Regions from separate parts of the Homo sapiens genome. Here all the other regions are linked to region 1. Evidence: fine-mapped expression QTL. A gene starts in region 1. Each other region holds a variant in brackets. All regions are shown on one strand. Distances are between the middles of the regions.

What was found. PIP is the estimated chance that this variant, and not a neighbour inherited with it, causes the effect.
Region 2: its variant is the best candidate, but not a certain one, in a credible set for the expression of MCTP2 in whole blood (INTERVAL, PIP 0.83).
Region 3: its variant is the best candidate, but not a certain one, in a credible set for the expression of MCTP2 in blood mononuclear cells (TOPMed, PIP 0.86).
Region 4: its variant is the best candidate, but not a certain one, in a credible set for the expression of MCTP2 in whole blood (TOPMed, PIP 0.70).
Region 5: its variant is the best candidate, but not a certain one, in a credible set for the expression of MCTP2 in whole blood (INTERVAL, PIP 0.67).
Region 6: its variant is the best candidate, but not a certain one, in a credible set for the expression of MCTP2 in whole blood (TOPMed, PIP 0.59).
Region 7: its variant is the best candidate, but not a certain one, in a credible set for the expression of MCTP2 in whole blood (TwinsUK, PIP 0.57).

Annotation. Positions count from the first base shown.
Region 1 is chr15:94,229,580-94,233,648 of GRCh38, forward strand. MCTP2 (multiple C2 and transmembrane domain containing 2) reads left to right here and starts at 1,982. Exons shown (of 23, transcript NM_001385001.1): 1 at 1,982-2,085. RefSeq lists an enhancer at 237-376 and a silencer at 1,912-2,041.
Region 2 is chr15:94,257,411-94,261,479 of GRCh38, forward strand. The region is part of intron 1 of MCTP2 (multiple C2 and transmembrane domain containing 2); the gene reads left to right. Among named protein-coding and RNA genes, the nearest start is that of MCTP2, 28 kb to the left of the region's middle. The variant T/C (reference allele first, on the strand shown) is at 2,123.
Region 3 is chr15:94,268,033-94,272,101 of GRCh38, forward strand. The region is part of intron 1 of MCTP2 (multiple C2 and transmembrane domain containing 2); the gene reads left to right. Among named protein-coding and RNA genes, the nearest start is that of MCTP2, 39 kb to the left of the region's middle. The variant G/A (reference allele first, on the strand shown) is at 1,954.
Region 4 is chr15:94,340,099-94,344,167 of GRCh38, forward strand. It overlaps MCTP2 (multiple C2 and transmembrane domain containing 2), which reads left to right. Exons shown (of 23, transcript NM_001385001.1): 6 at 101-177; 7 at 715-826. Among named protein-coding and RNA genes, the nearest start is that of MCTP2, 110 kb to the left of the region's middle. The variant C/T (reference allele first, on the strand shown) is at 1,981.
Region 5 is chr15:94,404,365-94,408,433 of GRCh38, forward strand. All of the region lies in intron 17 of MCTP2 (multiple C2 and transmembrane domain containing 2), which reads left to right. Among named protein-coding and RNA genes, the nearest start is that of MCTP2, 170 kb to the left of the region's middle. The variant T/C (reference allele first, on the strand shown) is at 2,117.
Region 6 is chr15:94,166,003-94,170,071 of GRCh38, forward strand. It overlaps the pseudogene H3P40. Among named protein-coding and RNA genes, the nearest start is that of LINC01581, 60 kb to the left of the region's middle. The variant T/C (reference allele first, on the strand shown) is at 1,623.
Region 7 is chr15:94,173,944-94,178,012 of GRCh38, forward strand. No RefSeq gene overlaps it. Among named protein-coding and RNA genes, the nearest start is that of MCTP2, 56 kb to the right of the region's middle. The variant T/TAA (reference allele first, on the strand shown) is at 2,349.

The DNA of each region.
Region 1 (4,069 bases):
TCCCTGGAAGGGACATTTCCTGGGTGGAACATAGAAAAGGAGACAGGTAATATGTTTGAACAATTAAAAACAAAAAACCCAGGAAGCTGGGCAGATGAGTGTATTGTGGTGGGAAGGGCAAGTTGTGACCTTAGATTTCTGTATCTTTAGTTGTTTCACTTTCTATACCATTTAATGATTGAAAAATGCGGTTGGACTGCCGGAACCACAGAACAGGAACTCCACTGGGGCAGGAGTTAAAGGCAAAAAAGCTTTTGTGTGGGTTCACTTACTATTTTAATTCATTTGTATTCTTAGTCAGCTTTAAAGGTATGATTGCTTCGTCTGCCTACTGCTCTTTCTCTTCTTCCTTTCATGCTGTTTTACCCTTACCTCTCTCTGTTCTCTGCTAGGGGATGTAACCTTCGGCACGGTGGGAAAAGCCAATTTTGCCATAGGCCTCAGCTTGCTCTGACTCGGCTACTAACTTGACTCATAGCTTCAGGCAGGTTATTTCATGGTTCTGATGCTCATTTTCCTCATCTTGAATCAGAGATTTTATTAACTGTCTCCTGGTTTGTGAAAATTCAATATGATCACGTGTTACATGCCAATCACAGAAACTGGTGCGAAGTTGTGTTCCTCAGTGGTAGCTATTGTTGTAAGTCGGAATTGCATGACAGTGGCAGCTGTTTTCTATCACGTCCTCATGTTTTCTAAATTTTTATGCCCCTTCCTCCCATTTCCTACCTTAGTATTGTTAATAGCTAACTTTTATTAAGTGGTTACCATGGCCCAGGACACTGTAATGAGGATTTTATGTGAATTACCTAATTAATTTCTCAGAAAGTATGAGATAGCTATTATTTTAAGCTATTTAAGCTATTTTAAGCTATTTAAACAACCAGTTTGTTGAAGTTAAAATTTAGAGAGGTTAAGTGAACTCGTCCATTTACACAATTAGTTGCCCAGGCAGAATTTGATTTGAGGTCTGACTCCAAAGCCGGAGCTCTTAATCACCAGTGACACCAACTAAACGCTTCATTTCAGAGCTCGCCTATTCCCAGAGGTCCCATTCCCGTTTTAAGGTTATTTTCTGTAACTCTCTTGTATCTAATTTAAAAATGCTATTTCCCAGAGATGAGTCCCTGATCTCCCAGAAGGCATGGATCATACATTTCTTTTCCTAATCCACCCAAATTCCTAGAGCGCACAGACTTAGGCTCGTTCATAGACGGGAAAAGAAACTGACCAGGCAGTGAAACCGAGCAAACAAAGTGCAATAAGACAATTACAGCAGGAAAGCGGCGTAAAAAAAAGTAGAAAAAGAAAGTAAGGGAAAGGGGAAATAAATAGCAAATATTCGCTGAGTGCCAACAATCGCACGGGAGGGTCTTTAGGGTTCTCTGCCGAGTACTCGGGACGGCTTGCTGAGCAGTACGCCGGCCTTATCTCATAGATGAGGCACCAAGGCTCAGGAAACAGTTCTGTGGATCTGGGCGGGCATCTTCCACCCACAGTCGCGCACACGTGGCATAGGTTAATAGGCTGTCTGGCTCGGGTACCTCTTCCCAGGGTCAGGGCGTTACAAAGGGAGGCTGCTGTCTTCCCATGAATCTATTAGGGACCTACAGGAGCGAAGAGAACCCTTCTGAGTATCAGCGAAGACAGCTTATTAAGACTTTACGAGTTTGCAAGCCATCCTCGTCCTATTTCCTCACTTCGGACTTTTTGGACACACCTTCCTTTTCCTGTGAGCCAACCCAAACGAATGAGTTACAAGTAATCGCCTTCTCTACGCCCAGCCAGTGCCCAGCACCAAGCATAGCGCCTCCTTGCAACACCCGGCCGAGCTCCCGGCGGCAGCGCGGGCGCTTGGGTCGGAGGCTGCTCAAAGGTGACGCGCGGCCGCCTCCTCCCCTTTAGGCGGGGCTCGCAAGGGCGGTGGGGGGGCCCGAGGAAGTCCGGGGGCCCTCGGTGATGCCCCCGCCCCCGCCGCGTCAGGGTTGCTCCCTGCGCTTCCGAGTGGCGACTGCAGCGGGTCCGGTGCAGGTGAGGGGCGCGCGCCTGCCCAGCTTTGCAGCCCCCGAACGCGGCCTCGCACAGGTGAGGGCGGTGCCGGGTTCACCTGGCAGCGCGCGTGGGCCGGGCAGCACGGTCGCCGCCTGGGGGTGGGCGTCTTCTCTCAACCGAAGCTGGGAGTTGGGGAGCTGGAGGGTCCAGGATGAGAATTCAGTGGCGCTACTACCCCGGAGCTGCTTGTGGTTCAGAGATCAGAAAGGTGTCCTGAGGACTGGAGGCAGAAATCCAGGCGTGGCGTACTGGAAGGCGCACTAGGGGAGGGCAGCCTGGCCCAGAATTTCTTTGCATTTTAAAGGCCACACATTCAGTCTCCCCGGGGCGCTACGGAGGTAGTCACCGCCACATCCAGGACTCCTTCCACAGAGGTCAGTTCCTCAGCTGGGTGGGCTTTAATACGCTCTCTTCGTAGAGACCCGGAGGTTCAACTTTAATTCTTTGCGCTGACATTTGCTCAACGACACCGGAGCAGAAATCCTTGGGATAATTGCGTAGGTAACAAACAGTGTCTCAATCCCACTGAAGATAAGTAAGTTAAAAATAAAGACAGTGATGTTGGTGGTGAACTTGAGTGGCGATTAGTTTCCGCAATTAGTTCCCTCCTGCACTGTCCATTTGTTAAGCAAATGTGCTGACGGCTTTTTTTAAATGATTGGGTTGCCATAAAAGAGGTTTTCTCTAGTCTGAATGAACTTCTGTGCGATGCTGACTGAGGGTTTCAGCCTCCTCTAGATGCTTACAAGAGCTTGGTCTGGAAGGTACAAGGGTGCGAACCCTTAAGGTACCAAGCAGCTTCTCAGTGAACCGTGAGACGTTAGAACACTTGCTTCAGGACGCACAGAATTCAGACACCACTTATTGAAGGATTTGTATGGATTATAATTTACATTAGCATTCATTTTTTGCTTGAGTCAGTAGCATTTCAATTCAACAAATATTTATTGTACACCTGTTAACGGGCAGACCTCTGAGAGCCGGGCTGGTGTGCTGTTGGGTAGCACAGGTGTTGATATTAATACAAAGGGGAATCTTAAGGCACTTATTCCTCACAGGTGGGTGTTTAGAACGAGACCAATGGTGCTGCGCTTTGCCTCAGCAGCACCTGTGTAATCGCTGGTTATAAGTATTTAAATGCAGGGAGAATGTAAATCTTTGAAGAGTCTCTGTCATTAGCCTGATCAGTCATTCCAAAGCAATAAAAATTGTCAAAACCATGCTTAAAATAAGATTATTAAGAATTAGCTCTGTGCCAAGCACCATGCTAGGCACTTTGTCTTGTCTATGAAATCTACAAAGTAGATACTATTCCCCTGTGCAGATAAGGAACTGAGGCAGAGAGGAGTCCAGTAATTTGTACAAGGTCAGTGGTGAATTTAGAAATTGCATGTGGCTATTTCTGAGTGCAGAACTCGTACTTTTTCACTATTCCATGCTGTCTCTAAGATGGAGAGTGTAAATCCGGCAGATTTAATATAAGAATTCAAATTTATATTCATAGATCCTATCTCCTGGGGATTAATGGAGTTAAAGTAGTCCTCAGGAATGAAGTGAGCACTGTTTTCATTGCACTTGTGTGGTCAAGCTGTGACCTATCTGTGACTAGTAGATGTAGCTTTAAAAGATAAAATTTATTATGTGTCTTAACATATTTTGAAAGGCCTTTCAAAATATGTTAAAAGATAAAATTTATTATGTCTCTTAACATATTTTGAAAGGCCTGATATATCCAAACAGGGCCAATTAATAAAATTGCATATATATTCTCTCTGTGTTATACATGGAAGGAACAGCTAATTTCCTATTATTGGTGTGCTTTACTATGGTCTCCTCCTGCAGAGGTGAGTTTCTCAGCTGAGTGGGCTTTGAAATCAATTTCAGCTTGATTTCTTACAGCTGCAAGATGATTAGCGGTCTCTTGTCACCTGGAAAGGACTTTGTGTTTGTGTAAACCTGTGCTCACACACGAATATATATTTTTCCTTAAACCTATTTCCAGAAGTACTACTTCTGG
Region 2 (4,069 bases), 28 kb after region 1:
TAGATTAGACAAAATTCAACCTTATCTCCCATATATTTTGCGTGTGGTAACAGTGGTGTATGTTCCCTACAATGCCCTGGTAGCATTACAAAGAAAAATTGTTTGGGCTTTTTCAGAACTATCACATTTTAAAAATATTTGTTGTCATTTTCTTTGTTGTTTTTTTTTTTTTTTTTTTTTTTTTTTTTTTTTTTGAGACGGAGTCTTGCTCTGTCACCCAGGCTGGAGTGCAGCGGCATGATCTCGGCCCAATGCAGTCTCTGCCTCCTAGGTTCGAGCGATTCTCCTGCCTCAGCTTCCTGAGTAGCTGGGATTACAGGTGTGTGCCACCATGCCCAGCTAATTTTTGTATTTTTAGTAGAGACGGGGTTTTACCATGTTGGCCAGGCTGGTCTTGAACTCTTAACCTTGTGATCTGCCCTCCTCGGCCTCCCAAAGTGTCAGGATTACAGGCGTGAGCCACCGTGCCTGGCCCATTTTCTTTTTTAAGATGGAATCATGCTCTGCCGCCCAGGCTGGGGTGCAGTGGTGCGATCTTCTCAGGGCTCACTGCAACCTCCATCTCCTGAGTTCAAGCAATTCTCTTGTGTCAGCCTCCTGAGTACAGCACCTGCCACCATGTCATTTTTTTTTTTTTTTTTTTTTAGTAGAGATGAGGTTTTACCATGTAGGCCAGGCTGGTCTCGAACCCCTGACCTCAAGTAACCTGCCTGTCTCGTCCTCCCAAAGTGCTGGGATTACAGGTGTGAGCCACTGTGCCTGGCCACATATTGAACATTTATGTGCTCAAATCCCAGGAGGGTTTCTAATTCCTTGGTTACTTAATAATGTCACAACTAAATGAATGCTTCAGTTATCCAGATTTCTCTAAGCCCAGGTTATGGTAAACAGATTTATTTCTATATTGTGAGTTTGAATTTCTTTTCTAATTATGAGTGACTCCTCTCTCAAAGGACATGCAAATCTTTTTATCCTGCCTCTGCCCCATCACCTGGGTCCACAAAAAAGCATCTGTGTCTACTTCTGAAAATGCAAATTATTTGAATGTGCCAGAGTAAGTAAAAAGGAAGTGGTGCATGCATGGTGTAGTTTGTAAATGTAAGAGTGACTTGAGACAGATGAGATCCTTTATTGAAATTAATAGTTAATGAATTTTCCCAAGAGAAACACCATTTAGTAGAGGTGACAATGGTAGTTACCGAAAACCCTATTTAAATCACGCTTGCCTTAAAAAACTAAAAACCAAAAAACCAAAAAAATCTTGTCTATTTCATCTTGTCTGGTTTGCATTATGTTCATTACCTGATTCTTCTTTCTAAAAGGAGAGATACAGTTCTGAAAATAGTTATTGCCTAAAGGGAGAAAACAAATTCTTTTCCTGGTATTGCAGTTTTGTTATTTGTTTTCCAACAGGTTAAAGGATTTAATTATTCAGATGCTCTAGAACTGTTCTCTGCATATTCTTTTGATCATACGCCCTATCAAGCAGGTACTTTTTGAGCAGACACACCCAATATATAAGTTTACATATTTACTTATAAATTATGTACATGTACTATGGTGCTGATAATATATATACATTATTCAGCATACACTAAAATAGAGATTAAAAGAACACATTAAGTCAGTGTGAATGGAAGTTCCAATATTTTCTTCCTACACTCTGTGGCTATGCTGGACTCTCCCTGGGCCATGCTCACTCAGTTCACTCTGGGGACCCCCTTCACCCCACCCAGCCTAGTCCAGGTCATGGGATTGCAGGACCTGAATAAAAACACACCATTAGTACTCATACTCTGCCTAGGGAGGCTAAGGGAAGAAAAGTTTGCTAAAGGTCCTGAATAAAGCTCATCGAACTCCAAATTCTTCACCTTTAAAGAGAACATGCTACAGTGCACAGCCTGGCACCTGGGGCAGAGTGGTGATCAGGAAGGGGAAATTGATGTTCTCCTCCTATTTCTGCTGCTGTTCTGTTACTGCAGCTGTTAACTGCTAGTTCATAAATCTTTTATCTAAAAATTCACAATTCAGAAACTTTTGCAAATGGAAAGGATTTTGTTTGTAAGAATCCTTACCAGGGTTTGGTAGCAAACTCTGACTTGGACTCTTGTGTAACTATTTC[T/C]GTTCTATGTAGTAGTTATATATCCCATTAAGTTTGAATTGTGATATGTTTGATGATGAAATACTGTCTCCAAACCATTTAGGGTATTGTGTAATATATGATACACTCTCTAAATTCTTAAATTTCTGAACTCCAAAAACAAACCTGGCCCAAGGTTGGTTTAACCTCTGTGATGATTATTTCTACTTTGAAGCTTGTTGCCCTTTTGTTCAGGTTATTGCTGTATGATCATTTGGTGAAGGATACTGCTTTTTGATGGACATGATCGCTTGTAAAGGCTTCCCCAGGTCTCTACTGTAGGGAAGAGTGCGCCTGTCCTGATTCAGTCATTTGTAAACTATTGTTATTGTTTGGACAGGAATAGCAGATGGCTTAGTCTCACCCTTGTGCACTGAATGCCCTCCACATCACCATGTAATTGTCCTTTCCAGATCATACATTGGGTAAGGAACCTTCTGATCTCTGCCCTGTTCTTAATCTCCTTCAACCACTTTCTCTTCCCCTTTGGCTGTTCACCAGTGAGGTCATTTGCTTTATCTCTGGAATATATGAAAAGGCTCCACCTGTACCTCTCATGTTGTCTTCTCACTTCTGTTTTCTCTACCCAAGGAACCTTGAGTGCCTTTCCTGGGGATTCTGGCCACGGAAACTTCTCCTGTTCCTCAGGGGCAATAAGGGTATGCGAAAATTCCTCCCCGACTCAGGATCCAGTGGGCTTGCCATGGTGCATTCAGAGGCTCTGCCATCTCTTTAGCATTCCTTTCCAGGCTGCAGTCTACCCCCTGAGTCCAGCCCACTCAACTTTCTTGTTCAGCTTTGGCATCATCTCATGATTGGAGGGTGCAGCCTTCATTGATAGGCTGGCATTCTTTCCAGAGTGACAGTGCCAACTCTCTTCTTCTTTCTGCCCTCTCGTCTTCTCTCATGGGCCACAGAGTGGTTGGGAATACAGGTTGTGGGCAGACAGTAAATGGGGCTTCCAACACCATATTAAGGACTTTGAACTTGTACAAAGTTTATCTGCAGGAGCCATTAAAGGTGATTCCATCTCTACCTTGAAAAGACCGTTGCTCTGGTGGTGTAAATGAGAGATTGTAGAGGAGAGAGGTGAGAGAAGGGGAGTAGAGGTTCAGAGTACACTCTCAGATATCCTTTATTTCACTTCAGTTTCAAAATGTTAATTTGACTGTGTAAACCAAAAATAAAATTCTAAGGCCCTCCAACCATCTGAATGAACCCCTCTTCTCAGCCAACGGCATTCCAACGTTAACCTGAAAAAATGAGTTCAGGCCATGATGGGAGGGGACAGCCAGGCATGCCTCATTATACCCTCCTCCCTTTTGGAATTACTGAAAGAACAGTAATAGAACAGTGATAGTTCTTTAGGTCTGGTAAGAAACATTTACAACCTGTTCTCTCTGAAGCCTGCTACCTGGAAGCTTCATCAGCACGATGAAACCTTGGTGTCCACAACCTTTTATCATGACCGAGACCCTCCTTTCTATTGATGATTCTTTTACCAATTGCCAGTCAGAAAACTTTTAAATCTACCTGTGACCTGGAAGCTCCCCTGCCTCCTCACCACCCACCCCTGCTTCAAGTTGTCCCACCTTTCTGGACCAAACCAATGTGTATCTTTCATGTATTGATTGATGTGTCTCATGTCTCCCTAAAATGTATAAAACCAAGTTGTACCCCCAACCCCCTTGGGCACTTGTCATCAGGACCTTCTGAGGCTGTGTCATAGGTGCATCTTTAACCTTGGCAAAATAAACTTTCTAAATTGATTGAGACCTGTCTGAGACACTTTTTGGGTTCACACTACCACCTGATTGGTAAAACAGTTGGAGTGGATAGCATGTGGATTCTGTGTTAGGCAGCTGTGAGTCTTAGTGACAACTCTACCATCAAAAACCAACCGGTGGCCAGGCAGGCTGTAATGTATAA
Region 3 (4,069 bases), 38 kb after region 1:
TTTTTTGCATTTTCAGTAGAGATGAGGTTTTCACTGTGATAGCCAGGATGGTCTCAATCTCCTGACCTTGTGATGAACCCGCCTTGGCCTCCCAAAGTGCTGAGATTACAGGTATGAGCCACCACGCCCGGCCCAAATTCATTCTTTCTTTCTTTTTTTTTTTTTTGAGACAGAGTTTCGCTCTTGTCACCCAAGCTGGAGTGCATTGGCACAATCTCGGCCACTGCAACCTCCGCCTCCTGGGTTCCAGTGATTCTCCTGCCTCAGCCTCCTGAGTAGTTGGGATTACAGGCGCCTACCACCATACCTGGCTAATTTTTTTTTTTTTTTGTATTTTTAGTAGAGACGGGGTTTCACCACGTTGGCCAGGTTTAGTCTTGAACTCCCGACCTCAGGTGATCCACCTGCCTCGGCCTCCCAAAGTGCTGGGACTACAGGCATGAGCCACCGCGCCTGGCCACTTTCCTTTTCTTCTTTTTCAATCTTTATTTTGTTGTCCTTCTCGTTTTCTTGGGAAAGTGTCCCCTTCTTGTTTTCTCCCTTGGCTGGCTTCCTTTGTATAGACTATGTGATTAACACCTCATTAAATACCGTCAGAACTTCTATTTCTGTATATTCATAGTATATGTTCCACACTGCCTTGCTATCCATGAATTCTTACCAGTAGATCATAAACTTCTTATGGACAGGTTTTGTGCCACTCTTATAAGAACTAGTAGATACTCAGGTAACATTTCTACATTGACTTTTTTTTTTTTTTTTGAGGAGATAAGAGTAGAGTCAGCTCTGAGATGACTACTTTTTAAGTGATTCTTATTTTTAATCTTTTTGTATATTATTGGTAGTTTTTAGGACCTAAGGAAAGCATGTTTGCCAGATTTCCACTTCTGAATCAGGGATGGATTGATGGAATACTTTAATAACATTATTTTTAAACTATTAGCATAAGGGTTTTTTAATTGCTCCAACAATGTTAGTGTCTTCTTCACTTAGCATTATACTATTTTAATAATATTGTTTAAATGATTAGTATAAGGACTTTTTAAATTGCTCCAACAATGTTCATTTGTCTTTCACACTTAGCACTTCGTGATATTTATAAAGGGCCCATTGAAGTATCTCGTGTTGACACACTGAGGTTGGTTAGTTTGGGTTTCAAATTCTGTCAGTTTTCAAGCTCTGTTCAAGTTCACTTTTAAGCATGAATCATGAGTTACACAAATCATATAGATTTATTCTTAAAATGTTGATTATTTTAAGTCATCTTTTTCAGTAAGTGCCTTATAAAGATTTGGGCAGAGTTTCAAATTCTTCTAATATTCAGGCTTTAGGTGTAAGAATAATTGATAGAATTTAGGGGTAAGAATAATTGATAGAATAATTGATGTTTTAGACAGATAATAGAGTAGATTTGTCTTTACAACTCCAGATATCTGGAATCATATGTTTTCAATGATTGCCTTATGAAGATTATTGAAAACTGATATCTCAGTGTTAATTTTCAGTGTGTCTTGTATAAGCTCTCTCGTGGACAGAGCAGCTTTTATAAGGGTTAAATTTATCAGGCTCCCATATATGTGATTAGCCATTGCTGTAGACAGTTTTCTAGTATTTCATGTTAGGAAATACTCAACAAATACATTTTAATATAACCAAGGTTCTGAAGAAGACCTTACCTCTGAATATTTTCCACAGAGCCTATTATATTCCCGAGTTCACAGAAAGTTGTTTTATTACTTCAAGGACTCTCTGGGCTCAACTCTGTAGCTAAAGAATGTTATGTTATTCTCTGGGCTTGGTAATTGTGTTCCAACTCTGATATTTAGCCGTGATACTGTTGTTTCAGAGTTTGAAGTAAGGGAAGATACCTCTAAAAAAAAGGTTCAACTCTAAAGCGTTTCACTTATCCATCTATATTGTAACATTTTTTTTCCAGTTGTCCCTTTTCTCCAA[G/A]CAGAATAAAATAACAGAAGCAGGGCACAGTGGTGAGGGTATTCAGGCACCATGCTTGTGGTTCCAGCTAGTGGACGTTATGTTCCTGTTGGGGACTTTTGAAATGTATATGATGGTTTTTCTGGTCACACTGACAGGGACATTGCTGACACATAGGAGATGGGGACTATGATAGCTGCCATCTTACAGTGTACAGAACAGACCCATATGTCAAAGAATGTTTCCACCCCAAGTGCCAGAAGTACCCCCTGTTGAGCAACACTGAGATAGAGAGGCTTCAATTTCGGGCACTGTGAGCTTGAACAGTTTGCATTTGCTTCATCTGTAAAGTTGGAGGTAAAATTACCTATTGTATAAGATCATTTTAAGGATTTCTGATGATGTATGTAAAGCAGTGAACACAGGACCAGATGCTTAGTAGGAACTAGTAGAGGAATTGTTTGACGCCATTTTTAACCTTTAGTGGTTTCCCAGCCCACTCACAGTAAAAGCTGATGTCCACAGACTGGCCTACATGGACCTGTCCAATGCGATCTCCTGCTCCCCTTTGAGGTCATCTCCTGGTGGTCCCCCTCTCTGGCTCTCTTCCAACCACACTGGCCTCCTTGCTCTTTCTCCATCTCCCCAGGTGGGCTGCCTACCCCCTATCCCCCTCTCCTGGCCTTCTGCACTTGCTCTTTCTGCTATGTGAGAGGCTCTTTGGCTACATGTATCCCCCTGGTGTTCTCCCACACTTTCTTCCACATTCTGCTTACCTCATCTAAGGGGTGTTTTCCTGATGCATGATAGAAAAATAGATGCTTGGCTGTCCACAGCCACCCTTTGTTTCCACTCGGTTGTTTCTCTTCCCTTTACCATCACAGACAGACAGAAATTATTGTCTGTCTCTTCCAAGTAGTACATAACTTTCATGTAAGCAAGTACTCTGCCTTGTTCACTGATATATCCCTAGTGGCTGGAATATCCCATCGTTACTTAGGTGTCAATATGTGTATCAGATGACTGGATTAGTATTTTAAAACAGCAATGGCAAAGAAGTTGTAATTGACTGGTAACACTTGGTTGTATTACCAGTCAATCACAACAGTGTTACCAGTCAGTTACAACAGTACTTCATATGCTATTTGTGTGTATGTATGTGAGACGAGAGTGTGTGTGCATAAAAAAGTTATCCTTTCTACTAGTTACATAGATTTAAATCCAGATGATGGAATTAATAATTTACAGGAAACTCCCCATCTAAACAATTTTGATAAGCTTTGCAAGATATACCACACATTAGGTTGTCCAAAAATTGGATTTCTCTACTCACTGCTCTTCCAATTATATTATTCTCTCATCTCTTTTAATTGAAGGAAGCATGATACTTGTATTCTTACATGAGACTACCTTAAGGGCATAATGATGTGATTATATTTGGGTATATGTTTTGAAATTGGTTGCAAATCTCTAGAGGTTATCAGTAAAACTACTTGTAGCATGTTAGAATTAGTGAGTTTTCCTGTCTGCTTGGAGGAGGTGTAATTGCTCTTTGGATAGACAATAGGTGTTTGCTGTTTCTGTTAATATGGGTAGGAGCTGGGGACATGCTTTGAATGATTATGTTATGAAAGAAACTACTGGCTTGATGTTTTAGAAGCAAGAGAAAGATAAATGGTATAATATACTTATTTGAAAGATAGGTATTTGAATTTAAATTTTCTTTCTTGCTCTTTGGTAGATGTGATGATTTCTTTAAAATATTTTGCTTTGTTTCTGAAAAATTTGTCTGGATTTTATGGCTTAAAAATATGCACCATTTGTGAAACATATTCTTTTTCACACCAGAAATGGCTTTGGAACATATGCATAAAGTTTCTGTTGTTCTAAATTAGTGTTTCTTTTGGGCTAACCTTTCAATTACATTTACCATCCTAAAATAACTTCTTTACCTAAGTTGGACAAGATTTTGTACTGGAAATTAATACCTTTGCCTCCTACTATCCTTATTCCGGTGATGTTCTAAAGATAGTTCAGGTGTTCTGTTTCTGCAGGTAATTATTAGACAAGGAAACCTTTAAATGTGGTGATAATGTTAGGCAGGACCTTTGAAGTTTAATGGTTGTGTTCTAATGTA
Region 4 (4,069 bases), 110 kb after region 1:
CTGATTTCAGAATTTCCAACCTATTGCATTTGTTAATAATTTGAAAAACTCAGTTGGTTTACCATAATAATGTGTTAATTGACCTCTGTCCTCTTTGTAGGTATATGATCGAGATTTAACCACATCTGATTTCATGGGTTCTGCATTTGTCATTCTCAGTGATCTTGAGCTTAACAGGTACCGTATTTTTACATTTTAATTGTTATTGATGAGTTTTAGAGGGAACTTACGATAATGTTAAATGGTGCTTGTTGAGGTCAAATGACAAAAATAACATATCTGAACAAATGAAAGAGAGCTTTAAAGTGTTATAACTGTCAGTGTATTTTTAAGGATTTTTGCTTTCCAGGTGCCAAATATATTAGTCAGATGTTAAGTATTTTATAATGCATTCTAAAGTGTGTATTGGATTTCATACTTTGATTTGTTAATATTCAGTTTCATTAACATAACTTAAAATTAAAACAAGTGTTTACATTTTATTTGAGTGGTAGGGGAGGGGGATCAGTTAACCAACTGTTGAATTAAACAATGCCAAACAGTTTCTCTACTCTGAATATAACTGTTTTATTTTCACTAAATTTTGTGCTTTCTTAACATCATGTCTAATCCTTATTCAGAGGTAGGAGACTTTTACCATAAGCTCCTGATGCGTGTAGGTCAATACAGTCCTGTCAATAAGTGGTAGCATTATTTGTTGCTTTTTGCTTGTAGAACAACTGAACATATTTTAAAACTGGAAGATCCAAACAGTTTAGAAGATGACATGGGAGTGATCGTGTTAAATTTGAACCTAGTGGTAAAACAGGGTGATTTCAAGAGACACGTAAGTGGGACCTTCTATTCTTTTGAAACCTCTCATTTTGTCGTTTTGAAATGGCTCATTGCAATTGTCCCTTGATAGCTAGCAGATGACTGATGTTTTTGCAATTATTTTAGGGGGGGTGCAACATTTTATGGAGTCTTAAAATATCTGTTTTTTAATACAATGCTCTTCTTTGAGGAACCGGAAAGGAAATTTGTTAAGGAATTATTTCTTTTGTGTTATTAAGATGATCAGGCATACATTTGCAGCATTTTGGTTTCTTCTTTCTTCTTTTACTTTTAGCTACCAAGTTTTCCATTGGGAGTTCTTTTGGGAAGATACAAATTTTAATGTTCTCTAGTCTAGTACATGCAAATTTCTAGTTGATACAGTACCTATCAAAGATGTCTGTAACATCAGTGAAGCATTAGACTTTGTCACAATATGATTGGGACTCTTCTTTTGAGCAAAAATGTGGATACAAATCATAATCTTATTTTATTTGGGATTATATTTTATAATTCTAAGGCTATATTAGAACAAAAGCATCTTTGATGATGACTTATTTGAAAAGTATTTTTAAAGCCAATTGAAGTACCTGCTTTTTAAGATGTGTTATAATTTAGCATGTTTATAATCCAATATAAAAATATAAAGCCTATTTATAATTAGGTCTCCAGTAATGCTTCTTGAATTGAGGCAGTGGGGTGGGTGAGGAGAATATTTTTCTTTTGACATCACTTATGCTTCTAGTTGTAGCTTTTTATGATGAAAACCGTGATTGATTTACTAGTAAACTCAGAGAAGATAGCTTAAAGCAGTAGGAAAACTGTAGTGTGACTTTTCAGTTACCTTTTCAAAGATTCAACTAAATATCTGCTATTTTTAACTTGAGTTCCTTTTATTACTTCTTTTTAAAAAGTGGCCCTGTTGACACTTGTGACCTCAATAAAAGAGATATTTTAATGTTAAAATGTCTTAAATTAATGTTGAAAATAAAAGTATTTTTTCTCATCCCACCTAAAGAAGGAGGGATTTTCTTTAGCTTCTTCTTGATCTTGACAGCATTGCTGCTGCATCCGTGACTCTGGATTCAGTGTCAGTGATACAGTAGGTGACCGGTGACTTGAGCTGGGGGCTAGGTTATAGCATGCAATGTAAATAGTTATTTGTCA[C/T]GTGGTTGACAACTTGCCAGCTGATATCGTCAAAAAATTTCTTATATATTCAAGTGGGGCTTGTAAAGGTAGTTGATTTCTCCATGAAAATAGCTGCATATTCAAATGACTGCCTTTGTGAAGTTTTCTATAGCATATTAGATTATGTTTAGCAGTAATATTGGCACTTAAAAGATATTTAATATTGTCAAAATTTAGAGTTTTAACATAATGCCATTTTAGTTTCAATTTATTTCAAATTGCAGAACAGTTAATACTAGACTCAGCTTGGAGCTGTTTTTGTAAAAGATCTCAAAGAGACTATGTTTTCAGGGCTCAAGAATAGCCATATTTCCTCTTAGTGTAGGCCTGGTTTCCTCTGACTCCCCACCTCCCATGTTGAAGACTTTGTCAGAATGTCTGTCCGCTCACTCATGTGCTTCCTTATTTTCTTTTGTCTTTGTCTGGCAGAAGCCTAGTGTACACTATATTGATTATATATACACACACAAATATATTTTTATCCCCATATATACACACACACACACATATATATTTATATATACACAAATATATATTTGTCTCCATATATACGCATATTTATCTCCATATATACACATATATTTATCTCCATATATATACACACATACATATATATCTCTATATATGCACATATATATTTATATATACACACACATATATATCTCCATATATATACACACACATACATATATATTTATCTCCATATCCATATTTATTCAAGTTGGGTTTGTAAAGGTAGTTGATTTCTCCATGAAAATAGCTGCATATTCAAATAGCTATCTTTGTGAATTTTTATATCCATATTTATGTATATGGAGATATATATGTATGTGTGTGTATATATATATGGATACATGTATATATACACATATATATGGATCCATATACATATATACACATATACACATATATGAATACCTATATATATATACATATGGAGATAAACATGTATATATATAACATATATATATATAATGGAAATATAGACAACTGCCTACTCTTATCTCTTCTGATTGGTAGTTTTTTTCCATTTATATATTTGATCAAAGAAAATTAATTGAGGAATAATTTATTCTGGGCCATGTGTGGTTATTCAGCTAACAGTGCATATTGGGAGCCTTGGGGTAAAATAGATTATCAGAATCTTTGTTCTTTTCATTGAGTTTGAGTTAATATTTAAAGAGATTTTTATATTGGGATTTTAAGTGGGAATAACTAGCACTTGGGACTGGAAATCAGTAGATTATTTGGGTGAGATAATTTGTTTATAAATTTCCATTTTAATTTAAACTCTGATGGAGAGATTTCAGTTTAAATTCTCAGTTTTTTACCCCTTTTTCTTCCAGTCATCTTTGAGGTAGCCTTTGTTGCTTTAGAACCAAGCTGACAAAAATCTCAGTATGTACAAAATGTTTATGAATTTACTCTTGTGTCCAGGGACTTAAATGTATATGAGAATGGTGCAGGCAGAAGGGAAGACACTGGCTGCAAGGCTGACAAACATACTCTGTGTTCTTTTTTTGTGGCAAAAAACAGGAAAAAAATAGTAGCTAAAATTAGGAGCTCTGTTCTCAGACTGCCTGGGTCTGAATCCTAGATCCACCAGTGGTCTGGTTAACTCAAAGAATTATTTAACCTCTCTAAGCTATAATTTCCTCATATGTGAAACAAGGATAAAAAGAGTGTCTGTTTTATAGGGTTGTGAAGATTGAAATTATCAAATATGGTGCTTGGAATTGGGTAGAGACACTCAATATATGGTAGTTGGTAGCATTGTAGGAAGTGAATAGTAATAGTCATTTTCCATTAATTTATTTACATGCTTTATCTTGTGTAATTGTTAAAAAATATCAAATGCGTTCCTATGTGTCAAAAGGCCTAAATAGCCCTGTGTACCTAAAAGATGGTAATTAATTTTGGTGGTTGGTTTGGGTGAAAATATCTGTCACTATTTCAGGAAAATACAAAAAAAAAAAACAAAACCCTGATATTAATATCCAGGTTATAGTACCTATAACTCTGTCATAGGCTGAATGTTGAACTCCCAATATCACTGGGGGACATGTAA
Region 5 (4,069 bases), 170 kb after region 1:
GATCTTGGCTCACTGCAACCCCTGCCTCCCGGGTTCAAGCGATTCTTCTCCCTCAGCCTCCCAAGTAACTGAGACTACAGGCACGCACCACCATGCCCGGCTAATTTTTGTATTTTTAGTAGAGACGGGGTTTCGTCATATTGGCCAGGCTGGTCTTGAACCTCGACCTTGTGATCCACCCATCTCGGCCTCCCAAAGTGCTAGGATTACAGGCTTGAGCCACCGCACCTGGCCTCCGTTTCATCTTCTTTCATTCTTCTTTTGGTAAGATTATGGGTAGCCAAGCTTTCATGTCCTTTTCTTTGAAAACGCCTTCATTTATGTACCTTGCCTGTAGACCTGTTAGCTGTCTGTAGGGGACTGGATTGGCGGGGCGGGTTGCACACCTAGGGGGCTGCCCTGGCTGTAGTGCTGTGTCCCCGAGTCTGTGGGGCTTCATGATGGGTTGTCTTTCTGCAAAATGTTGGATCCTCAAGCCCAGGCTCTCCTCTGCCTTTCTTCACTATGCAACTGCCATATCTGTCAGGGGTGACACACACTGACGGATGTTCTCCTGTGATCTGTTGACAGAATGCTGCTTGGTGTCTTTATTCGTCATTGTGACACTTTGTTCATGTTCCAACTGCTCGCCTTGGCATGACAGGGCAGAACAGAGGCGCTGTCTGAAGCAAGGTTTTAAGCCAAGGATTTATTAAATGACCCGTAGTCAGGTCCTCTAATTGAAATTAGCGAATGTGATAGTTGAGGGTTTGCTACACAGGTGTGAAAGGAGCTATTTTAGTTGAACCAGTCCCTGGTGGGGCTTTTCTTCTTGTGACAGTACAGGAAGTGATGCTAACACAACAAACTAAGGGCAGAACTGAAGGGATGTGTTTTTCTTCTGTTTTTTGAGAAAACATAAAATATTAACTTTATGTTCTAGACTCTAGCTCCAGGTGATACAAACATGAACATTGCAGAATCATGTTTAATCTATTCTCAATGTCAATTTTAAGACTTTATGAAAGCAAACCATACGTTTTCCATGGATGCCTATGTACATGTGCATGAACATAATCGTATCTTGTTGAAAGCAGCAGTTAAAGAAAAGCAGGCTCTTAAGATCTAGGTCCGCATGGTGTCTCGTCAGAAGTGGATGGACAAACGTGAGAGAACTCACCTTGCTAGATGACCCAAGCATCACCTTCCTCTACCATGCGATTTATCACTGCTACACTTACAGGAGTGGTTGTATTCCCAACATGAGAGAAGAAAGTTATCAGTAATGCACCTGCTATGTTAATGTTGCTGCATAGTGTTGAATTTATTGTTATCATAAGAAATTAAACATGGGCATTTGTAGGGTGGTCAGACCATTCCAAGTCAAGTTTCTATAGACTCAGTTCTTCTTGTTAGGATGAACATTGAAAATCTTTCTCATTTTGTCTTCTGGGTCTTTCTCTTTCCCCTATGTTTTTCAGATATTTTGGTATCTTGCCTTTTCTAAGGTTTACTTAGTTATATTAAATTAAGGATATATTTTTTCTTTTTTCTTCCTTCAGAAAGTAACATTCTTGACTTTCCCATTTGAAAAACAAATTAATATGAGATGTTGACTTAGTGAATGAGGCCAAATAGAACTGAAATATTTTGCCTTGAAGTAAGTGCACCTGTATATTTCCCTATGAATAGATTTGTAAATATATGTGGTATTTTATACACATGTATATACATTTATATACATACACAAGACGTGTACATGGCCATTCCCACACAGATTTTGACTATTTGAACTATTATTCATAGTTCATGTTATTTCAGTGCTTAGACACTGTCCCAAGGATTTTATAAATTTAGTTCTCACAACAACCTGCTGATGTAGGTGGTGATTACTATCTTCTTTTTACAGATGAGAAAAATAAGCCTATAGAGGTCAAGTACAGTGACAGAGCTCATGTGTGTGTATGAGGTAGAGGTGGAATTGAAACCCAGGCCATCTTGCTTTAGTCTGTGCAGGCTTAACCCTTCAGCTATTCTGCCTCTCACTGATGCCCAGGATGCAATGTTTGTTGTCCTTGTATTTACATAGTGACACCGGGACCAACCATACTGATTGTTTCAGATCTGTATTTAGATA[T/C]TATGTGTGGGGATTAAGCCTGTTCCAAGCTGTGATGCTATACAGGAAAGAAACCCTCATTACATGGGCGAGAATAATTCTTTAGCTCAGTTATTTTATTCACAAGTGATGATGAGACCAAAATTAAAGAAGCCAAACATGGAAATGCCCAGCCCCTGGGCATCACATGCATTTGGCATCCTTGGAATCCAGCTGGATAATTTGAAAAACCCTAGAGCCTTGGTTCTAGACTGAGTCCCAAATTACAGTCTGACTTGTTTTTCCCCACCTTTGAGGAATGCTTTTAGATGATGTAGAGGGATTTTCAAGGGGAGAAGAAAGTAAAAACAGAAAACAACTAGTGGAAGGGATCATGGAAGGCATTGGACTTTTCAGTTGTTTTTTTTTTTTTTTTTTAAGTATTCCAAGTTGTTCAGAAAAGGGATGGGGTAGAAGAGAATAACCACCCCTTATGTTCCTTTAAAATATCTTGAAATAATAGCTATAAAAGAGATAGGCCCATATGTCTAGTGGGGATCTCTATTTTATATACCCAGTGTCTCAGTGCAAATACATTATTTGATCATAATAAAGATAAATTTGTTCTCAAAAGATAACTTTGCATTGTGATATTTATATTGGTAGATCCAATCATGTATGGGTGTTTTGTTATGACATACTTATATTTTATAAACCCCAATGTTGTCTATTAAAAGTCCTAAAGTTATATTATTATATAAATGCATTTTTCATATGTTAAAATATTATTTACTTGACAGATGGCATCATCAGAAGGTGATTTTAAACAGCAAAGTTCTGATGCTTTTAACATAGAATTGCATTTATGCAGTTTCATTTTTCCACCGATATTTCAGGCACACACCTATTGTATCAAGGGAGGCAAGTTTGTGGGGCATTGATGGATTCTTTGCTTTATTAAATTTTTACTTGGATGTTTGATCTAAAAAGTAATCTAAATCTACCATATATCAACGAGTATCTTCATAAAGCTATGATTTTAACATCTGTGACTTTTTTCCGATTTTTTGAGTATAGGGAAATAAAGAATTTACTTTTCAGAGTTGACAAGGACTGAAATATGATACACAAATTAAAGCATCAATCAACCTCTCCCTCAATAAAGTTAAAAAATACAACTGTCCACTCGCTTGGTAATATCCCATATTTAACATATATAGAATTTTTAGCTTTTAGAGATCCTAGAATATTGAGAAAATGTGAAGTAATTTCACATAGAACTTAAAAACAACAGTAGCAGTAATAGAGCCAACCCTTCCAACACACATGTACTTGTGCACACACACACACACACACACACACACACACACACACACACATGCATGAACACGAAGAAGCAGAGGACATTTGGGAAATTAAAAGTTGCTCTGTTGAATGTTTTGTGAAAGCAGTTTAGTAAAAACCAAAGGCAAGGCCTTGAGGACTGCTGTTTTCCATGATTTCTCTGTGGACCGAAAAACATTCAGATTCATTTTGCTTTGGTACAAATGACAAATGCAACACTGTTTTGAGATTCGACTCATTAAATAATGCTGGTCAAATGTCTTTTTGATGCTTTCGATATTTATGTGTTAACTGTGTCTAAAAGATTTACTTTAAGTTCTGTCACCAGTTTACTCACAACGAAATGCACCTGCATTTCATTAAGCTCTTTCATTGGCTATGACATCCACCAGAAGTCACAACTGGATGTGCAGAGCAGACATCGCTGCCCATTTGCTAGGTGTGTGTGCAGTTGATGCTCAAAAATTAAAAGTATTTGTGTAAAGCTGGAAAAAAGAAATTTCAGTTACAATAACCAGAAGAAGAGGGGTTTTAGACATCTTAAAAGTGTGTATATATAAGTGCACACACAGAACCATATACACATATATGCAAAATATATAGGTATATTCAATGCTTAAAATATTTGGCATCTTATGGTTTTAACATATA
Region 6 (4,069 bases), 64 kb before region 1:
GCTGGTTGGGGTGGCCAGCTTTTATTCCCTTATTTGTCCTCCCCCCATGTCCTGCTGATTGGTCCATTTTACAGAGCGCTGATTGGTCCATTTTACAAAGTGCCAATTGGTCCATTTTACAAACCTCTAGCTAGCTACAGAGTGCTGGTTGGTGCATTTTTGCAGAGCACTGATTGGTGAATTTATAAACCTCTTGTAAGACAGAAAAGTTCCCCAAGTCCCCACTGGATCCAGGAGGTCCAGCTGTCTTCGCCTTTCAGTAGGACTTTGGGAGGTTGAGGTGGGCGCATCCCCTGAGGTCAGGAGTTCGAGACCAGCCTGGCCAACATAGTGAAACCCCGTCTCTACTAAAAATACAAAAATTAGCTGGTGTGGTGGGACGTGCCTGTTATCCCAACTACTCGGGAGGCTGAGGCAGGAGAATTGCTTGAACCCAGGAGGTGGAGGTTGCAGTGAGCCAAGATAGTGCCACTGCACTCCAGCCTGGGCAACAGAGCGATACCCCGTCTCACACCCACACAAAAATACTAAAATAAAAAAAAAAACCCACTGCCTCCGAGATTCACTTTAAATAATGTTGCAATGTTTTGTGTGAATGAATCCTTCCTCCACCTTGTTCCGATTTTATTCTGGGCACTATTTCTTCCATATACTTACAAACAAAAAGCAGGCTCATATTAGATTTTTTTTTTAACCCAGTTTGGTCTTGTGATCTACATCAATCCATCTTGTGACCAATATCAATGCAATAGCCCAAAAAGATATTTTACATGTTTATTTCATGCCTTAAAACAACCAGAAATATCATTGTCATGGCTAATTTCCAAATTATGAACTAAAAATTGACAAAAAACGAACATACATTGGACTTTCACTATGTGCCACACACATATTAATACACTTAACATGTATTATGTTAAGTGCTTAATTATCTCACAACTCTAAAAAGTGAGTACATTAGCACATCCATTCTACAGATGAGAAAAGGAAGGCTGGAAAAAGACATGATGAATCCAGGGGGAAGAGCAGGGATTTGAATTCAGATCTGCCCTGACGTCAAGTTCTTCTTTGGGGTTTCATGATTTTCCATTTTGTACTTTGCACATAGTCATGCAGCTGTAGAGTGAAGAAAATCTGTTGCTTTTCAAAGTTCCTGGCTAGTTCCTGAAGAAATGTTATTACTTTGAGCACACTGATATGGTTTGGCTGTGTCCCCACCCAAATCTCATCTTGAATTTTAGCTCCCATAATTCCCACTTGTTGTGGGAGGTGATTGAATAATGGGGGGGGGTGGGTCTTTCCTGTGCTGTTCTCGTGATAGTGAATAAGTCTCACGAGATCTGATGGTTTTATACAGGGGAGTTCCCATGCACATGCTCTCTTTTTTTGCTTGCCACCATGTAAGATCTGACTTTGCTCCTCCTCTACCTTCTCTCATGATTGTGAGGCCTCCCCAGCCATGTGGCACTGACTCCATTAAACCTCCTTCCTTTATAAATTACCCAGTCTCAGGTATGTCTTTATTAGCAGTGTGAGAACAGGCTAATACACACATTAAATAATTATGCTGTTTCCTGCTCATTTGGAGTGGTATACACATAAGGGCTTTCTCTCTTTTTTTT[T/C]CCCCCAAGGCTTTAAAAAGGGGTATGATTTCAACACTCACAGGATTGGAGAGGAAGTTTTATTCGAAGACGGTAAAACTCTTAAACTCACAGCCTTGGTTCTAAACCTATGGTCTGAATTCTTAGAGTCATTATTCACGTTGTCATTCTGAGTCTATGAATATTACTAAAGTTTTACCAGGCCCTGTGCTAGGCTTTGGGAGGCAGAGCGGTGAAAGAGATAGGTAAGGCCTCTGCTTTCCTCTTAATCAAGCCAGGGCCCCTGCTTGCTCGCCATCAAGAAGAACCATATCTACAATACATAAATCAGTGCAGTAGCTAAGTTTAGATGTTATGATTGCATTACCAAAGGCAATAAGACAGGAGGTGGCCAGCGCAGGCCTCCATGAACTAAACTGTATCGTGTGTGTGTGTGTGTGTGTGTGTGTGTGTGCGCGCGCGCGTGTGCGTGTGTGTGTGTACACGTTTCCTCTTAAGGGTACTGACAGAAAGATCTTTTTACCTGCGTACCTCTGTTAATAACTAGTTCTAAACTATGTTGGAGAATGGGTATGGATTCTACAACCAGATTAAATAGATATGGCCTATCTGACAAAGCAAACCTGAGATTCTATTTTCAAAACAGTACACCTCAATCATAAAATCTCTAATGCCAGCACCACCTGTAGCTCGCTGAGCCCCAGCTGAAGGAGAAGGGGATAAGTAAGGAGGTTTTTAAGACCGTGGCTGGTACAAAGCCGACTGCCCACAGATCAACCAGTGGCAAAGCCCCCAGGAAGCAACCGGCTGTGGAAGCTGCTTGCAGTAGTGCGCCCTCTCCTGGAAGGGTGAAGAAAACTCATAATTACAGGCCTGGTTACTGTGACACTCCATGATATCAGACCTTATCAGAAGTCCTCCAAACTTCTGATTTGCAAACTTTCCTTCCAGCATCTGATGCACGTAATTGCTCAGGACTTGAAAACATCTGCGCTTTTAGAGCGCAGCTATTGGTGCTTTGCAGGAGGCAAGTGAGTGAGGGCTATCTGGTTGGCCTTTTTGAAGACACCAACTTGTGCACTATCCATGCCAAATGTGTAACAATTATGCCAAAAGTCGTCCAGCTAGCACATCTCATACGTAGAGAAGGTCCTTAAGAATCCTCTATGATGGGAACATTTCATTCTGAGAAAAATTCTCTTCTTCTTGTTATTGGTGGTTCTGAATGTTAGATATTTTTTTTTCCATGGGGTCAAAAGGTAACTAAGTATATGATTGCCAGTGAAAAAACAGAGGACAGAAACCAGATATTGACACTTTTTTTCTGTGTTCGTTTGTGTGTGAACTGTTAGTATAAATGCCCTGCATTTATGTCCCTACATGAAGCATTAATGCAAGTCAAACCTTTCAGTGAAGAAGTCTCAGTGGTTAAACTTTATAACAATTAAGAAACCTGTTATTTTTTTTCTGAACAATGCTAGCATTTGGATTTTTTAAAAAAAAATAAGTAAATGTTTTATTGACAGCAACTAAATGGTGTTTGTAGCATTTTTATCAAATGACAGATACCATCCATTCACTAGACTTTTCTCACTGAATTGTCCTACATGCAGTACGTGTTTTTTAATGTTGTCTTTCTTCTGTGTTGTTTCTGTAAGTTTGCTATTAAAATACATTAAACTATTTTTAAAAAACTCTCCATAGGTCGTGGTCAGCAAGCATGTCTTCAGCAATCACATCAGTCTCAGGAGAAATTTTCATGGTCAGGAAGATAAATTTCATCCTAGATAGGGCAGTGTTGTAATAAAGGCATAGAATAGGATGGAAGCATGGTGATGACCAGGAATAATGAGAACTCTCCTCTACCTGCCTGTCCAACAGATATATTATTTAAGGATAATTAGTTCAATGCTTAAATCAATGAAATCTTATTTTAAAATAGAGTTACAAATAATCACTTTTAGTAACTCAGAAGGAAGCACTGGGATGAGGCTATGAAAGGCAGAATGTGTTAGTGAACAAAGTCATTGAGTCCGTTAGGTCACAACTGAGACTATGCTTTCAAAAGCATCCCCTAGCCTAATTACCCAATTGTTTTCTTTTTGATTTTTAGACAGAGTCTTGCTCTGTCACCCAGGCTGGAGTGGTGCGATCTGGGCTCACTGCCACCTCCGCCTCCCAAGTTCAAGCAATTCTCCTGCCTCAGCCTCCTGAGTAGCTGGGACTACAAGTGTGCACCACCACGCCTGGCTAATTTTTGTATTTGTAGTAGAGACAAGATTTCACCATGTTGGCCAGACTAGCCTCAAAGTCCTGACCTCAACAGATCCACCCACGTTGGCCTCTCAAAGTTCTGGGATTACAGGCATGAGCCACTGCACCCAGCCCTATATGTATTTTTTTAATAGTCCTTTTCCCCTAGAATTGTTCACAACCCTTATTCTATTCCTTTCCTTATGTTTCTGTCT
Region 7 (4,069 bases), 56 kb before region 1:
TAAACCAACAAAGACTGGGATCCAAAAACACAGGCAAGTTCAAACCACAGGATGAACTGAGGTTAAGTCATGGGCACTGGTACTATTGCCACTGGACACTAAAGCTGATAACACTGGTGTCTTTAGGCTACTGCTGGTGACAACTTTAAGCTGTGAATCTGTCAACCGCTCCCCAAGATTCAAAAGCTTGGCTGTGCATGTCTTACCAGCCAAACCTTCATCACCTTCCCACTCCTCCACACCATGACTTTCAAGAGTACCTGCTCTCCTGCTTTGGGAGACACCCAAGTCACAGTGTCCCACCAGGACACACAATGCAGGAATTCCTTCAAAAAGTAAGGCTCTTATGATCATGAGTTGCTAGAATAAAACATGCATACCCACCACACCATACCCCACCATTGTCTAGACATAAACAAAACATAACACACAATAAAAAGCTCCTACCAAAGATAAACAAGCTTACCCTTATTCTACTGAACATATTCCACTTCCAAAAGGAAGCCACTATACTCTCTCCACTTTCTTCAAGTTTCAACCCTAAGACCTCTGACTAACATCTATTTCTTTTTTCAGTTTTGTGGCAATTCTATTTCAAACCACAAAATAATTACAAAGTTAGATGATACCAATGCATATGCAATCTTTGTGGAAAGCCACACAAATAGGGAAGTTAGTTAAAATATTTACATGCCACAAAAAGGAAGGAAATTCTGAGTAATGGCTTTAGTCATCTTCTTTGCACAGGTCCCATGCCTGTGCATGATACTGATGGCTTAATGACTCTATGGCTCACTCCATGGCTACTTTGCCTCCTGCCAGCACTTCAGCAGTTGGAGTGCTTAATCAGTGGGGTGACCCAAAATGTCATACATGAGTATTTCAGCCTTTGGTGGTCCTGTTTTTTGTTTCTTTGTTTTGTTTTGAGATGGAGTCTCGCTCTGTTGTGCCCAGGCGGGAGTACAGTGGTTCGAGCTCAGCTCACTGCATCCTCCACCTCCCAGGTTCAAGCGATTCTCCTGCCTCAGCCTCCCAAGTAGCTGGGATTACAGACGCACACCACCATGTCTGGCTAATTTTTTGAATTTTTAGTAGAGACGGGGTTTCACCATATTGGCCAGGCTGGTCTCAAACTCCCGACCTAGGTGATCTGCTCGCCTCAGACTCCCAAAGTGCTGGGATTACAGGCCTGAGCCACTGCACCCGGCCAGTCCTGTATGTGTATAGTTGCAATATCCTTTCAACTGTCTTTTACTAACTTTATGTTTAAAAAATATTTCAGTTATATATTGGACAAAAGCAGAAATGAGATTACCTGATGATAAATCAACCCTCTTGTACAATTACACAATGATGCTCTTCATTACATTGCAAGATTTTAATTCTCTTCAGCCAGTCTATTTTTAATTTTTTCACGGGGGCTTATGTTATATAAGATTATAAAAAGATGGCTATTTCCCTACCAGGCAATTCAAGTCCCTACCAAATCCTATACAAGTGGCTCCAAACATCTTATCAAAATAAATCTTTTTAAACAAATGACAGTTTAAAAACAAATCAAAATACCTCAGTAGCTTTTAACCAAACACTAACTTTATTTGTGTAAATAATGAGTAATATTTGCCTCTTTCTGATTAAATCATTTCCTATTCAAACTGGAGCATGAACTATTTCACACTTGAAATTCTTAACCCATATGCAACTCTCAAGGGCTGAATTGTGTCCCCTGCCAACTCCTATGTTGAAGCCCCAACAGCCAGTCTCTCAGAATGTGACTGTATTTGGAGACAGGTCCTCCAACGTGGTAATTAAATTAAAATGAGGCCTTTGGGGTAGGTCCTACTTCAATCTGACTGATGCCCTTAAAAGAAATTTGGACACACAAAAAGGCACCAGGATGCAGGCATGCAGAGAAGACAGACCATGTGAGAACACAGCAAGAAGGCGGCCATCTCTAAGCCAGAGAAAGCCCTATTAGATAGTTAAATTTGAAAGTTTATTTACTGATGAGCTTGATTAGTGTTAGAAGCCAACTGCCCCCAAAGCAGACTTTAAGATGGGGGGTGTGGCCGGGCGTAGTGGCTCACGCCTGTAATCCCAGCACTTTGGGAGGCCAAGGCGGGCGGATCACGATGTCAGGAGATCGAGACCATCCTGGCTAACATGGTGAAACCCCGTCTCTACTAAAAATACAAAAAAATTAGTCGGGCGCGGTGGCAGGCGCCTGTAGTCCCAGCTACTCTGGAGGCTGAGGTAGGAGAATGGCGTGAACCCGGGAGGCGGAAATTGCAGTGAGCCAAGATCGCACCACTGCAGTCCAGCCTGGGTGACAGAGCAAGACTCTGTCT[T/TAA]AAAAAAAAAAAAAAAAAAAAAGGATGGGGAGTGTTGTACAGGTAAACTACAATAAAGAAATCCCAAGGGAAACCTGTGAAAGAATGGGGAAGCCAAGCAGGAGCAAGATTTCAGGTCAAGTTTTTCAGGGAGTTGCTTCAGTTTCTCCCACAGGAGTGTCTGTTGAACTCACCACTGTGCTGTCCCTTGGTAAGGGTTACAGGATTATAAAACTTCCAAACCCATCGTTGGTTTAGGAGAAAGTAAATTCTCAGACTCTGCCATGAACAGTCCTCTACAATAAGAAGAGCATACGCTGGCTCTTAAGACCAAAAGTTCCTCAAAGTTCTGGGGCCCTAAAAATAGAATAAGGGGAATCCATGGGGATCTGGTTGGAGTACCAGTATTAAACACCGTGGTAAATGTTGGATTGTTCTGTTACTTCAACTTACCTGTTAGGTTCTGTGCCATATGCTAGAAAGCCACCATAACTTCTGGAGACTATGTAGCTTTGAGAACTTCAGCATCACCAAGTTGTCATTAAGCTCAGACACTCCTGTCATTTCTACCATGCCCCCTCCTATTTCAGGAATTCCTTCAGAAAAATGACCAGGCATTCCCCAGGAAAGCCACCTAGATAAAGTTAACTGAGCTCTGGAAAGTCATCTGTTTTCTTGCTCCCATTGGGCCCTTTCACTTTGTTTTCAAGCCTTCTTCACCCTTTCTCCCCTTCCTTTGATCTCTTTCCCTCATCATATTTTTCACCTATACTCTGATGTTCTGCATTTCTCTGGGATCTTTGTTGAATTTCTTTCAGCAGTTTTTCTGGCATCTTTATCATAATCCAGTTTATAATCAAGAACAATATCATGGACTTTTCCCCAGTGACTCAGGAGGATACCTCCTTTTTCCCGCCCTTTCAGGTTGGACTGAATTAGGATTTATTTCCATGACTCTATCACAGTCTTGGATGGAAACATTTAGCAATCTGAAGAAGCCACTTGCTCTCTTGGCATACAGAGTGTAATAGATAATCTTTCATGATACGGTTGGTGGGAGTAGGCATGCAACAAATGCGAGTCATGTGTTGATGTAATTTATTTGTGCCTTTAGGGCTTGTGCAGGCCTCATATCTATACACCACTTCCTCATGACGTTTTGCTACATGGATTAGACATGCAGTTCATAATGGGTCCTATGATTGGAATATATTCCCCAAAGTTTATGTTTTAGAAACATGATCCCAGTGCAGAAGTGTTGGAAGGGGGGCCGTTTAACAGGTAATTAGATCATGAGGGCTCTGATCCCCTGAATGGATTAACGCTGGTATCCAGGAAGTGGGATTTTTATGAAAGGACATGTTTGAAGTTCTTTCTTTCTCTCTCTCTCTCTCTCTTTACCTCTGCTATGGTTTAGTTCTATGTCCCCATCCAAATCTCATCTCTAATTGTAATCCTCACATGTCAGAATAGGAACCTGTAATCGCCGGGTGACGAGGGAGGGAGGTGATTAGATAATCGGGGCAGTTTCCCCCATGCTGTTCTCGTGATAGTGAGTGAGTTCTCAGGAGATCTGGTGGTTTTATAAGTGTTTGACAGTTTCTCCTTCACACATTCTCTCTTGCCTGCCACCGTGTAAAACGTGCCTACTCCCTTTTCTGCCATAATTGCAAGTTTCCTGAGGCCTCCCCAGTCATGAAGAACTGTGAGTCAATTAAACCTCTTTCCTCTATAATTTACCC